Regions from separate parts of the Homo sapiens genome. Here all the other regions are linked to region 3. The links come from fine-mapping of genetic effects on gene expression. A gene starts in region 3. Each other region holds a variant in brackets. All regions are shown on one strand. Distances are between the middles of the regions.

The links. PIP is the estimated chance that this variant, and not a neighbour inherited with it, causes the effect. A credible set is the group of variants that fine-mapping cannot tell apart.
Region 1: its variant is the best candidate, but not a certain one, in a credible set for the expression of TMEM178A in left ventricle (GTEx, PIP 0.79).
Region 2: its variant is the best candidate, but not a certain one, in a credible set for the expression of TMEM178A in lung (TOPMed, PIP 0.76).

Annotation. Positions count from the first base shown.
Region 1 is chr2:39,526,714-39,530,955 of GRCh38, reverse strand. All of the region lies in intron 5 of MAP4K3-DT (MAP4K3 divergent transcript), which reads right to left. Among named protein-coding and RNA genes, the nearest start is that of MAP4K3-DT, 91 kb to the right of the region's middle. RefSeq lists an enhancer at 3,587-3,646. The variant A/G (reference allele first, on the strand shown) is at 2,348.
Region 2 is chr2:39,578,586-39,582,827 of GRCh38, reverse strand. The region is part of intron 5 of MAP4K3-DT (MAP4K3 divergent transcript); the gene reads right to left. Among named protein-coding and RNA genes, the nearest start is that of TMEM178A, 85 kb to the left of the region's middle. The variant A/G (reference allele first, on the strand shown) is at 2,495.
Region 3 is chr2:39,664,097-39,668,338 of GRCh38, reverse strand. It overlaps TMEM178A (transmembrane protein 178A), which reads right to left and starts at 2,422. Exons shown (of 4, transcript NM_152390.3): 1 at 1,965-2,422. The coding sequence starts at 2,364.

The sequences.
Region 1 (4,242 bases), 140 kb after region 3:
TGCTCAAGGTGACATTCACAAAAGATAATGCTAGCCTACTTTTTCTAAAAATAAAGAAATAGTATAATTTCACCTTGCTTTAAGCAACCCTGATCTTTAAAATCCAAGCAAACAGATAAATCAGTAAAGAATTCTTCACTTTATAAAATGTCTCACCACAAGATGGCCTTAAAAGTAAACTCCCAGATTAGTACATTTTAGGTGGAATTTGACTTACAAAAAAAGTGGTTTATATGCATCATTGAAGCAGCACATCTACTATGTAAAGTCAGATATCCTTGTAGTTGATCCAAAGTCATAAATAAAATAAGCAGTCATCCTTCACCAGCATTATTCAATTGAGAAATCTGGAAAGGCAATCTAAACAACAATCTTCCTGTCAGTGGCTATATTATTAGACTGCAGCTTTTCAGTTTCCTGTATGTTGACAGGAAGCTGATCTCCTGAAGGAGAAAGAATACCCACGGGATCATTTCTTCAGCCCCATTAAATGTGAGTCAGGGCCAGTATGTCTGCACATAGCTATTTCAACTGCAGTGAAGAGTTGAAGTAACAGATTGGTATGATTTCCAGGAAAGTTCTAGAATGAAGTATTAATATTTAGATAATGATTTGTGAACACTTAGAAATTAAGAAGTGATTATTCAGAGTTAGTGTAAGCTAACTAAGAAAACGATATCCTATTTTTAAAAAGACTTACTATACCAGTAAAGTTGAGAAATTCCATAGATGAAACATACCCAATTTTGGTGACATATTTCATTAAGTCATGAAATCATCATAGAAAAGGTGAAAAAAATATATATGTGCTCAGTGAAAATGCAGTTATACAGATTTGTATTTTCTTCAGTGGCCAAATTAATGGCTGACGAATAGACCCATGTGAACCTACAGGGAGGTTCCTAGTATGTGTCACAGGGCTTAGCATTTTAGCAATGCCTGGGGGAAAGGTTTGAAAAGCCCTGTTATCAAGATCACATAGTATCTTGGAAGCTGGAAGGCTAACATTAGAAAGCAGAATCTGGATTAGAAAAGTTTTCAGTAAGACAGAAGAATCAAAACAAACAAATAAATATAATTTAAAAGGGATAAGTGTAAAATTTTACATTAAGAATTTTATGGTTGGTCACAGTGGTGCACACCTGTAAATCCAGCACTTTGGGAGGCCGAGGAAGGCAGATCACTTGAGGCAAAGAGTTCGAGACCAGCCTGGCCAACATTGCAAAACCCCATCTCTATTAAAAATACAAAAATTAGCCAGGCATAGTGGTGCACGCCTGTAGTCCCAGTTACTCAGGAGGCAGGAGAATTGCATGAACCTGGGGGATGAAGGTTGCAGTGAGCCAAGATTGCACCACTGCACTCCAGCCTGTAAGACTGTAAGACCCTGTCTATAAGACTCTGTCTTTGTATCAGGATGTATAAACCAAATCCATGATTTAAAGACCACTCAGCCTGTAAGACTCTGTCTCAAACAAAAAGACAGAGAGAGAGAATTTTATATAGAGACAAAATCTGGCTTGATGGAAGGTCATCTGACAGAGAACTAGGTGTTTTGGTAGGCCACAGATTTTATATGGGCCATTAATGAAATATGAATGTTAAAAATTATAACAAAAAGCTAATAGACTCTTGGCAGTTAATACTTATTTTCTCCCAGTTTATCAAGGGTTCTTATCTTCTTTATACTTTTCTGGATTTTCCAAATTTTCACATATGTTATTTTTATGAACAGAAAAACTACTCTTAGAATTTGAAAGTATTTTAATAACTGTCCTATTTTAATAACTGTCCTATGGACATTGGAGCAGGCTATTTCATATAGTTTTAGAGGCTGAAACTAGGGAAAACGGCTTGAAGTTATAGGAGACAATTTTAGCCTAAGTACTCAGCTCACCATCGAGTGGGTTCCCATCCCTGGAAGTGTTTACATAACCGTTGGCTAACTACAGAAGTGGCATATCATAGCATAGCATAGCATAGCATAGCATAGCATAGCATAGCACAGCACAGCACAGCACAGCACAGCACAGCACAGCACAGCACAGCACAGCACAGCATAGCATAGCATAGCAGTGAAAATCTCTGGCTCTGCCAAACTGCCTGGGCTTGCACCTTGGCTATGCTACTGACTTAGACGAGGCATGGTCTTAGATGAGGCATTCCACTATTTCGTCAGCTATAAAAAGGGCATGATAGTAACTGTATTTGTCCATATGGTCGCTAAGGATTAAAAGGATTCATCTGTATCAATATCCTTAAGACAATAACTGGACTATGCTCAATAAACATTATTATCATCTGTCAGAAGTGGTACATAAAGAATCTCTGCCTTGCTTGAGAAACT[A/G]GACTAAATGATTACCAAAAGTTACCTCCAATTTCATTATCTTATTGTTCTAAGTCAAGGAGCACCCTTCCTCAGGTGGCACTGTCTTATTACCTAAGCCTGTACTCCTGAATAGAACCCTGATAATAACAAAATTATTGCAGGAGAGCAAAATATATTACAAAGGAAGTGTCCAAAAGCTACTCAGCATCTCATACATTTCATTACCCAGAATAGGAAGCAGGCCCAGTGGTGGCACTGGACATATAAACCAAATCCATGATTTGGCCAGGTGCGGTGGCTCACGCCTGTAATCCCAGCACTTTGGGAGGCTAAGGCGGGCAGATTACGAGGTCAGGAGATCAAGACCATCCTGGCTAACATGGTGAAACCCCATCTCTACTAAAAATACAAAAAATTAGCCGGGCATGGTGGCGGGTGCCTGTAGTCCCAGCTACTCGGGAGGCTGAGGCAGGAGAATCGCTTGAACCTGGGAGGCGGAGGTCGCAGTGAGCTGAGATCGCACCACTGCACTCCAGCCTGGGCGATAGAGAAAGACTCTGACTCAAGAAAAAAAAAAAAATCCATGATTTGAAGTCCCAAGGCCTGGACAAAGGGTAGGGTGAAGAAGAAGAAGAAGGAGCCAAAGGAATACAGAAAACAAACGTCTGTACTTATTGATGTATTTATTTGTTCATTCATTCAACAAATGCATTTACTGAGCACTTACTATGCACTAGGCACTGTACTGGTTCTAAGCCCCGGAAACCAGGCACAGTTCCTGCCCTAATGGAGTCATATTCAGTGGGAAATATATTTCAACCAAAAAATGACACCAAGAAACATAAAATGACAGTTGTGATCAGCACCTGAAGGAGAAGTACCCAGGGCCATATGGTAGAGAGTTGCCCTGGTCAGAGAGGTCAAGAAAGACAGCCCTGAGGAAGCCATAACTGAGCTGAGATTTGAAGAAAGGGTGAAACTTACAGAAGTAAGTGCATTCTGGACAAAGAGCAGTTGGTGAGAGGAAGCGTGGCAGGTAAAAAGAACTGAAAGAGGCCGAGCGCGGTGGCTCACGCCTGTAATCCCAGCACTTTGGGAGGCTGAGGCAGGTGGATCACAAGGTCAGGAGATTGAGACCATCCTGGTTAACACAGTGAAACCCTGTCTCTACTAAAAATACAAAAAATTAGCTGGGCGTGGTGGCAGGCGCCTGTAGTCCCAGTTACTGCAGAGGCTGAGGCGGGAGAATGGCGTGAACCCGGGAGGCGGAGCTTGCAGTGAGCAGAGATCGCACCACTGCACTCCAGCCTGGGTGACAGAGCGAGACTCCATCTCAAAAAAAAAAAAAAAAGAAGTGAAAGAAGGCCACAGTGGTTGGAGTAAAGAGAGCAAAGCAGAGCATGGTTTGATCTAAAGCTGGCTAGGTACAGGGCCTATGGTCATGTTAAGGAATGTTGCATCCTAAAATCATGGGAGGGCATGCAAACATTTTAAACATCTCAGGGAAGACATGAAAATCAGATGAAGAACTCACTCAGCATACATTGTGGGAGGTGGAGGTCAAAACAGTGGCAGATAGACCAATAAAGAGGCTTTTAAGGTTATCCAGGAAGAGGTGAAGGTAGCTTAGACTAGGATAGTGGGAGTGGAAGTAGGGAAAAAAGTACAGATTCAAAGAGGTTTAGGAAGCAAAATTGAATGTGAAGGGTAAGGCAGAGGGAAAGGTCATGGTGACTCCAAGTTCTGGCCTGCTTAACAATGCGGGTGACATAGGGAACAGCAAAAGGTTTTGGATTAATCAAGAGTTTGGTTTTGGCTATGTTGTGTTTTAGATGCATGTGAAACTTCCAGATGAAAGTATTAGGTAGGAAATTGGATACATGGATCTAAAGCTCAAAGAAGAGACCTGGGCT
Region 2 (4,242 bases), 86 kb after region 3:
GAAACAGTCAACAAAGTGAAAAGACAACCCACAGAATGGAGAAAATATTTGCAAACAATCTCTCCTATAAAAGGTTAATAACCAGAATACATAAGGTACTCAAACAAATCAATAGCAAAAAGCAAAAACAAATACTCTGATTTTAAAATGGTCAAAAGACCCAAATAATCATTTCTCAAAAGAAGACATACAAATGGTGTTATAAGCAACATAAAATGAACTAAGACAAAAAAAAGGAAAAAAAATTTTTAAGTAAAAAATAAGAAGACATACAAATAGCCAAGAGGTATACAAAAAAATGCCCAACATCGTTAATCATCAGGGAAATGTAAATCAAAACCACAGTGAGATATCATCTATTAGAATGGCTATTACTAAAAAGACAAAAACAAAAAAACAAAAACAAAAACAAAACAGAGGCTGGCAAGTGTGTGGAGAAAGGGGAATGCTCATACACTGTAAGTAGAAATGTAAATTAGTATGGCCATTATGGATAATGGTATGAAGGTTCCTCAAAAAACTAAAAATAGAACATATGATACAGTAATTCGACTGCTGGATACATATTTTTAAAAAGTAAATCAGTATATCAAAGAAACATCTGTACACTCATGTTTATTGCAGCCCTATTCACAATAGCAAAGCTATAGAATCAACCTTTGTGTCCATCAGTGGATGAATGGATAAAGAAAATGTGGTGTATATACACAATGGAATGTTATTCAGCCGTTAAAAAAGAATGAGATCTTGTCATTTGCACCAACATGGATGGAACTGGAGGATCTTATGTTATGTGAATAAGCCAGGCACAGAAAGACAATGTTCTTATTCACATGTGGGAGCTAAAACCTGGATCTCATGGAGATAGAGAGTAAAACTGTGGTTATGAGAGGCTGAGAAAGGAAGAGGGGAGAGGGGAACAAGAGAACTTGGTTAAGGGTACAAAAATATAGTTAGATAGAAGAAATACGTCATAGCATTCAATAGTATGGGAGGGAAATTATAGTTAACAATAATTTATTGTATATCTCAAAAAAGCTAAAAGAAAAAAATTGTAATGTTCCCAATACAAACAAAGATAAATGAAGTGATGGATATCCCAATTACCCTGATTTGATAATTACACATTGTATACATATATCAAAATATCACATGTGCCCCCAAAATATGTACAACTATTATATATCAATAAAAATCAGGACATTAATATTGATATAATTTTTTTTGAGACTAAGCCTCACACTGTCACCAGGCTGGAGTACAGTGGCGTGATCTTCGCTCACTGCAACCTCCGCCTCCCGGGTTCAAGCAATTCTCCTGCCTCAGCCTCCTGAGTAGCTGAGACTACAGGTGCGCACCACCATGCCCAGCTAATTTTTGTGCTTTTAGTAGACACGGGGTTCCACCATGTTGGCCAGAATGGTCTCGATCTCTTGACCTCGTGATCCACCCATCTTGGCCTCCCAAAGTGCTGGGATTACAGGCGTGAGCCACCACGCCCTGCCAATATTGATAGAATTTTAAAAAGAAGGTAAAGGTAATGTTTATTTGAAAAGGGTAAGGAGGAAATGCAAGAGATCATTGTCAGTTGGTTATCTTTATTCTGACATCTGCAAGTCCTTGAAGGCATGAACACAGAAGAGTCTAAAAATGATCAGTTATCGGGGGCACAGTTCCAAGATGGCCGAATAGGAACAGCTCCAGTCTATAGCTCCCAGGGTGAGCGACACAGAAGGCAGGTGATTTCTGCATTTCCAAATGCGGTACCGGGTTCATCTCACTGGGGAGTGTCGGAAAGTGGGTGCAGGACAGTGGGTGCAGTGCACCGAGCGTAAGCCGAAGCAGGGCAAGGCATCGCCTCACCCAGGAAGTGCAAGGGGTCAGGGAATTCCCTTTCATAGCCAAGCAAAGCTGTGAAAGACGGCACCTGGAAAATCAGGTCACTCCCACACTAATACTGAGCTTTTCCAATGGTCTTAGCAAACGGCACACCAGGAGATTATATCCCACGCCTGGCCCAGAGGGTCCCACACCCACAGAGCCTCACTCATTGCTAGCACAGCAGTCTGAGATCGAACTGCAAGGTGGCAGCGAGGCTGGGGGAGGGGTGCCTGCCATTGCTGAGGCTTGAGTAGGTAAACAAAGCGGCCAGGAAGCTCGAACTGGGTGGAGCCCACTGCAGCTCAAGAAGGCCTGCCTGCCTCTGTAGACTCCACCACTGGGGGCAGGGCATAGCCAAACAAAAGGCAGCAGAAACCTAGGCAGACTTAAATGTCCCTGTCTGACAGCTTTGAAGAGAGTAGTGGTTCTCCCAGCACGGAGTTTGAGATCTGAGAATGGACAGACTGCCTCCTCAAATGGGTCCCTGACCCCCGAGTAGCCTAACTGGGAAGCACCCCAAAGTAGGGGCAGACTGACACCTCACACAGTAGGGAACCCCTCTGAGATGAAACCTCCAGAGAAACGATCAGACAGCAACCTTTGTTGTTCAGCA[A/G]TATTCGCTGTTCTGCAGCCTCCGCTGCTGATACCCAGGCAAACAGGGTCTGGAGTGGACCTCTAGCAAACTCCAACAGACTTGCAGCTGAGGGTCCTGACTGTTAGAAGGAAAACTAACAAACAGAAAGGACATCCACACCAAAACCCCATCTGTACGTCACCATCATCAAAGACCAAAGGTAGATAAAACCACAAAGATGGGGAAAAAACAGAACAGAAAAAATGAAAATTCTAAAAATCAGAGTGCCTCTCCTCCTCCAAAGGAACGCAGCTCCTCACCAGCAATGGAACAAAGCTGGATGGAGAATGACTTTGACGAGTTGAGAGAAGAAGGCTTCAGATGATCAAACTTCTCCGAGCTAAAGGAGGAAGTCTGAACCCATCGCAAAGAAGTTAAAAACCTTGAAAAAAGATTAGACGAATGGCCAACTAGGATAACCAATGCAGAGAAGTTCTTAAAGGACCTGATGGAGCTGAAAACCATGGCACGAGAACTATGTGAAGAATGCACAAGCTTCAGTAGCCGATTTGATCAACTGGAAGAAAGGGTATCAGTGATTGAAGATCAAATGAATGAAATGAAGCAAGAAGAGAAGTTTAGAGAAAAAAGAATAAAAAGAAACGCACAAAGCCTCCAAGAAATACGGCACTATGAGAAAAGACCAAATCTACCTCTGATTGGTGTACCTGAAAGTGATGGGGAGAATGGAACCAAGTTGGAAAACACTCTGCAGGATATTATCCAGGAGAACTTCCCCAACCTACCAAGGCAGGCCAACATTCAAATTCAGGAAATACAGAGAATGCCACAAAGATACTCCTCGAGAAGAGCAACTCCAAGACACATAATTGTCAGATTCACCAAAGTTGAAATGAAGGAAAAAAGTGTTAAGGGCAGCCAGACAGAAAGGTCGAGTTACCCACAAAGGGAAGCCCATCAGACTAACAGCTGATCTCTCGCCAGAAACCCTACAAGCCACAAGAGAGTGGGGCCAATATTCAACGTTCTTAAAGAAAAGAATTTTCAACCCAGAATTTCATATCCAGCCAAACTAAGCTTCATAAGTGAAGGAGAAATAAAATCCTTTACAGACAAGCAAATGCTGAGAGATTTTCTCACCACCAGGCCTGCCCTACAAGAGCTCCTAGAGGTAGCACTAAACATGGAAAGGAAAAACCGGTACCAGCTACTGCAAAAACATGCCAAATTGTAAAGACCATCAATGCTAGGAAGAAACTGCATCAACTAATGAGCAAAATAACTAGCTAACGTAATGACAGGATCAAATTCACACATAACAATATTAAGCTTAAATGTAAATGGGCTACATGCTCCAATTAAAAGACACAGACTGGCAAATTGGATAAATAGTCAAGACTCATCAGTGTGCTGTATTCAGGAAACCCATCTCATGTACAGAGGCACACATAGCCTCAAAATAAAGGGATGGAGGAAGATCTACCAAACAAATGGAAAACAAAAAAAAAGGCAGGGGTTGCAATCCTAGTCTCTGATAAACCAGACTTTAAATCAAAAAAGACCAAAAGAGACAAGGCCATTACATAAGCGTAAAGGGATCAATTCAACAAGAAGAGCTAACTATCCTAAATATATATGCACCCAATACAGGAGCACCCACATTCACAAAGCAAGTCCTTAGAGACCTACAAAGAGACTTAGACTCCCACGCAATAATAATGGGAGACTTTAACACCCCACTGTCAACATTAGACAGATCAGTGAGA
Region 3 (4,242 bases):
TTCGTGACTGGGAAAATCTAGTTCTTTTAACGAGTATATGAGTTCCGTCTTACGGAAGTACTGGGCTAGACAACCATTTGTCAGAAAGATTGTAGAAGGGAATTTGAACAACCAGTAGATGTTCAACTTCAATGACCTCTAAAGTCCTTCCACCTCTATTATTTGACCCTGGACTGCCCTGGAACTGGCACCTCAGTTAGCCAGGGCATTTGCAGAGGCATTGTGCAATATCCTGTGGGGGTCCCCTCTTCTACTGTAGGTTTGACTCTGCCCTGCTGTTTCAGGCATTGCTCTATATCCAATTTACATGCAATCAAATACTCTAAGCATAGAAAGTGTAAGGAAATGCAGTTCTGTCATTTCCAAAGACAGACTACACTGCTTAGCTTTCAAAATTGCCTTGCCTAAATGAGCACTCCATAACTGAGCCTCCACATTCAGCTTTTACAGTTTGTTCATGTACTATGCTACTATCAGAATTAATTATGCAGCATCTTCATGAGGAGAAATCAGATTTGGATGCAAGTTAGGAGAGAAAAGAAAATGGTGCACTTCCCAAAAGATTTTACTGTATCTGGTTCCCCTAAAAGTGCTGGAGTCCTTCCACACGCAGACAGATTTTGGATGGCAGTCCCCAGCTGAGTTAGCCATGGGAAGGAGGAAGTTGACATGTTTGAGAAATGAAGAATCCGCCAACTAGCAAGACTCTGAAGGCCAACACATTATTAACCCCCTCTTTTCTATGTCATTCCATTCCAGGCTGTAACTCAACACAAATCCGTCTGTTTGTTTTCCTACATGGCTACTAAATATTAAAATGTACTGATTTTGGACTTTTTCTTTTTTGGCATCATGAGTCCAAGAGAAGAGATGTTGATTTTTTTTTTTAATCTCAAAGGGGAAAAAAATACATTGAGTCAAGTTCTGAAAGTTAAAGGAAGCTTCACAAGTTGTCACACTGAATATTTTTACGTGAATGGGATTACCAAAAAAAAAAAAAAAATCAAACTATCTGATAGCATTCACAGAAGACAGGTGTTGCACAGATTTCAGAAGAACAAATTGATGCTCTGCAACTCAGTGCCAAACAAAACAAACAACAAAAACAACCTGACAAGGTACCACGAACAGAAGACAGAGTGATAAGCAGAGAGTGAGTGCCCAAATCTGGAAAGCTCTAGTTTAAAGGGCGAGGACATTTTCTCTCCTCAGTGCCTGGACAGCGAGGAGGGTGGGGGTATGGGGTCCTCAGGAAGGTTGGAAAGCAGGTGTCCTATCTGCCTCGGGCAGCCTCCACCAGCCTCCACCAGCCAACGATTGGTCTCTGAAGTCTAATCCACACACACCCTGCACTTCAGGGGTATGAAGGAAGGTTCCGGGGCCTCCTTCGCTGCCCATCAGCCCTGCCAGGCTGGGATGACCACATCAGTTCCGTCTGACACCAGCATCCGCACAATACAGGCAAAGCCCCTTCCCTCTCTTCGGAGGTCGGCACCACTTTTCTTCCAAACGGTATTTCCAAAAGGAGCACAACTTGAAGGAAGGAGCCCGGGTGAGAAAAGTCGAGTCTTTGACGGTTAGTCCCCCTCACGGGGAGCAGCGTCAAGAAAAGACACACATGTCAGGCAGGTGTACAAAGGCAGAGAAGGACGGGGAGAGAGAGAGAACCGGGGAATGGGAGGCGAAGGCAGGAAAGAAGGAGACAGAGGCGGGAGGTGCGGCACGGACTTGAAAGGACGCGCAGGATGTGGACGAAAGAAGAGAGTCAAGGAGAGGGAGAAGAAGGGAGGCAGTGGGGAAAGAAAGGGAAGAGATAAAGACTGGAGGCGGCGGGAAGGATGCAAGAATGCCCAGGCGCGGGGCCGCGGCTGGGAGGGGGCTGCGGGGACCGGCGCGCCCCTGGGAAGCCGCGGGCTGCGCTCCACGCGCGGGCGCCGGGGACGCGGGGTGCGCCCGCCGCTCACCTTTCAGGATGAGGGTGTCGATGTCCCGGTCGATGCCCAGGAAGTAGCACTTCCTCCAGAGGCCCGAGTAGGTGGCGAAGAGGGGCCGGCCGCACTCGGCGTCCAGCCCGCCGAGCCCCAGGAGCGAGCGCCAGGACTCGGGGTCGGCGCGCCCCGGGCCGCCCGGGAGCAGCCGGCGCCCCAGCGGGGGCGAGTCCCGCAGCGGCAGGTGCGACAGCGGCATCAGGCGGTTCTTCTGGTCCGGGGGGTCGGCGCCCGCGCGGCTGCGCTCGCAGCTCTCCTTGTGGCGCCGGGGGTCGGTCTCGTACCAGTGGTCGGTGAAGATGGCCGTGACGAGCAGCCCCAGGGAGCACAGGCTGAGGCCGAGGCTGAGCGCCGTGACGAGCGCCCGCGGCTCCATGGCTTCCCGCCCCGCCGCAGCCGCCGGTGGGCTCGCGCGCCGCCGCCAGACACAATGCACTTGGCCCCAGCTCTCCGCCCGCTCCCTCCCTCTTCCCCCCACCTGCCCCCCACCTCCCTCCTACGGCCTCCTCGCCCTGCGAGCCCGGCCCGGCTCGCTCCCTCTCCCCTGGCCTGATCTCGCCTCCCACCGCCCGCCCGCCCCCGGCCCGGCCCCCGGGCTCCTAGCCCTCCCCCGCGCCGCTCTCGCTTTCTTGCCCCCCTCCTCTTCCCCAGCCCCCTCTCCTCGCCCCGGCGCCCCCCACCCCGCGCACTCCTCTCGCCCCTCTCCCTACCTCCGATCCACAGTCCGCCCTCCTCTCCAGCGACCCCCCTTCCCCTTTTAATCTCTCCTCGCCGCCCTCATCCTCCTCTCTCCCCTTAACCCTGTCCCTACTTTCCCCCGACTTTTCTCCAACTCTTCCTCTCACACTTTCCCCCACTCATTTGCTCCTCTGCTCCCCGGCTCCTGGTGCATTTATATCCCGGCTCTGGACTCGGTGCCTCTCTCCACCTACCCCTCGGCACACCCCTCCCGTCCTCTTCCCTCCAACGACCTTAAAAGACATCCACCGACATAAGACTCACTCTTGTCACTTGTCCAAGTTGATTTTGATCAGTGTCCCGTTTTGTACCCAGGAGCAAATCCCATCCAGGTCGGGCTGCGTGGTAGCGTTTAACTCCTTGGAATCTTGATCTGGAGTCCGAAGGTCCCTTTGTCCTGCCGCCTGCCGCCTGCAGGATGAAGCCTCTGAGACCCCTAGGCAGCCAGCTCTATCTGTCGCGGCTCTTTCCCTCTCACTTGCCCATCGCTTAGCCTCTAAGCATTCTCTCTGCTCAAGCCCCTCTTCTGAAAGAAAAAGACACCGAGTGTCAGTGGAGCGATAGAACGATGACCAGAGATTTTTCTCCCACTTCATTTCAACCTGCTATGAGATGGACTTCTTTTTTCGTTGACTACGTCCATCTCCCGCCAGACTGACTGGCCTCCTGGAATTTCTAGAAGAGCCTGGAATCAATGAACCCTGGCAGTGGCACCTGCTCCATGAGGTGATTATTGCCTTTGCATACAGCAAGCCCCCAGTAATAAATCAAAGTAATGATTTTCTCCTGTGCAGGTTTCCTTCTTGGGCTGGGGGGTGGGGGTCAACAGCAAAGCAATGCTACACACCAAAGTCAACACCTGAGCCTGGGGCAGTTCTTCCATCTTCCAGTCACAGAGGTTACTTCCAAGAATGGCAGGCAGATTCACATTTTCTAAAATGAGGAAACGCTAGGACCCGGGGTGCTAAGAGTTAATCACTTGTGCGGTATAGTCAGTCTATACCACAGAGGTGCAATACACTCGTGCCACTCAATGCCCTTGTGGTCATGTCAGAGACAGAAAACCATGCTGCACTGGCCCAGGGATGAAAATGCTTGTGTTCTTATGCTATGAAATATTAATGATGAAGAAATTATGAGGCATTCATTACATGCTAAATGTCATTACTCCATGATTTAATGGGACTTATTAATTAGTGCCCTACATCAATTGGTATTAATATGCTTTATATCCTTCCTCTAGGATGACATCTGTAAAGGTGGTATAAGGCTCTTGCTGGGATTTATTTTCATTGCTGTTTGTGTTTAGCATCTTCAGAGGGTACATTTCCAGTGAAGATCGTGTGCCTATTCTGAGCGGTTCAGTTCATAGATAGATCACTTAAGCAAATCTTTCAGTTATATCAGACCCGCATTCCCATTTCTGCTGACCTGACAGTGTGAATTATTGCTTGGATTTTCTCACAGTTTCAGCAAGGTCTATGGTGAGCTCTAGTCTAATTAAGGAAGACAAAGA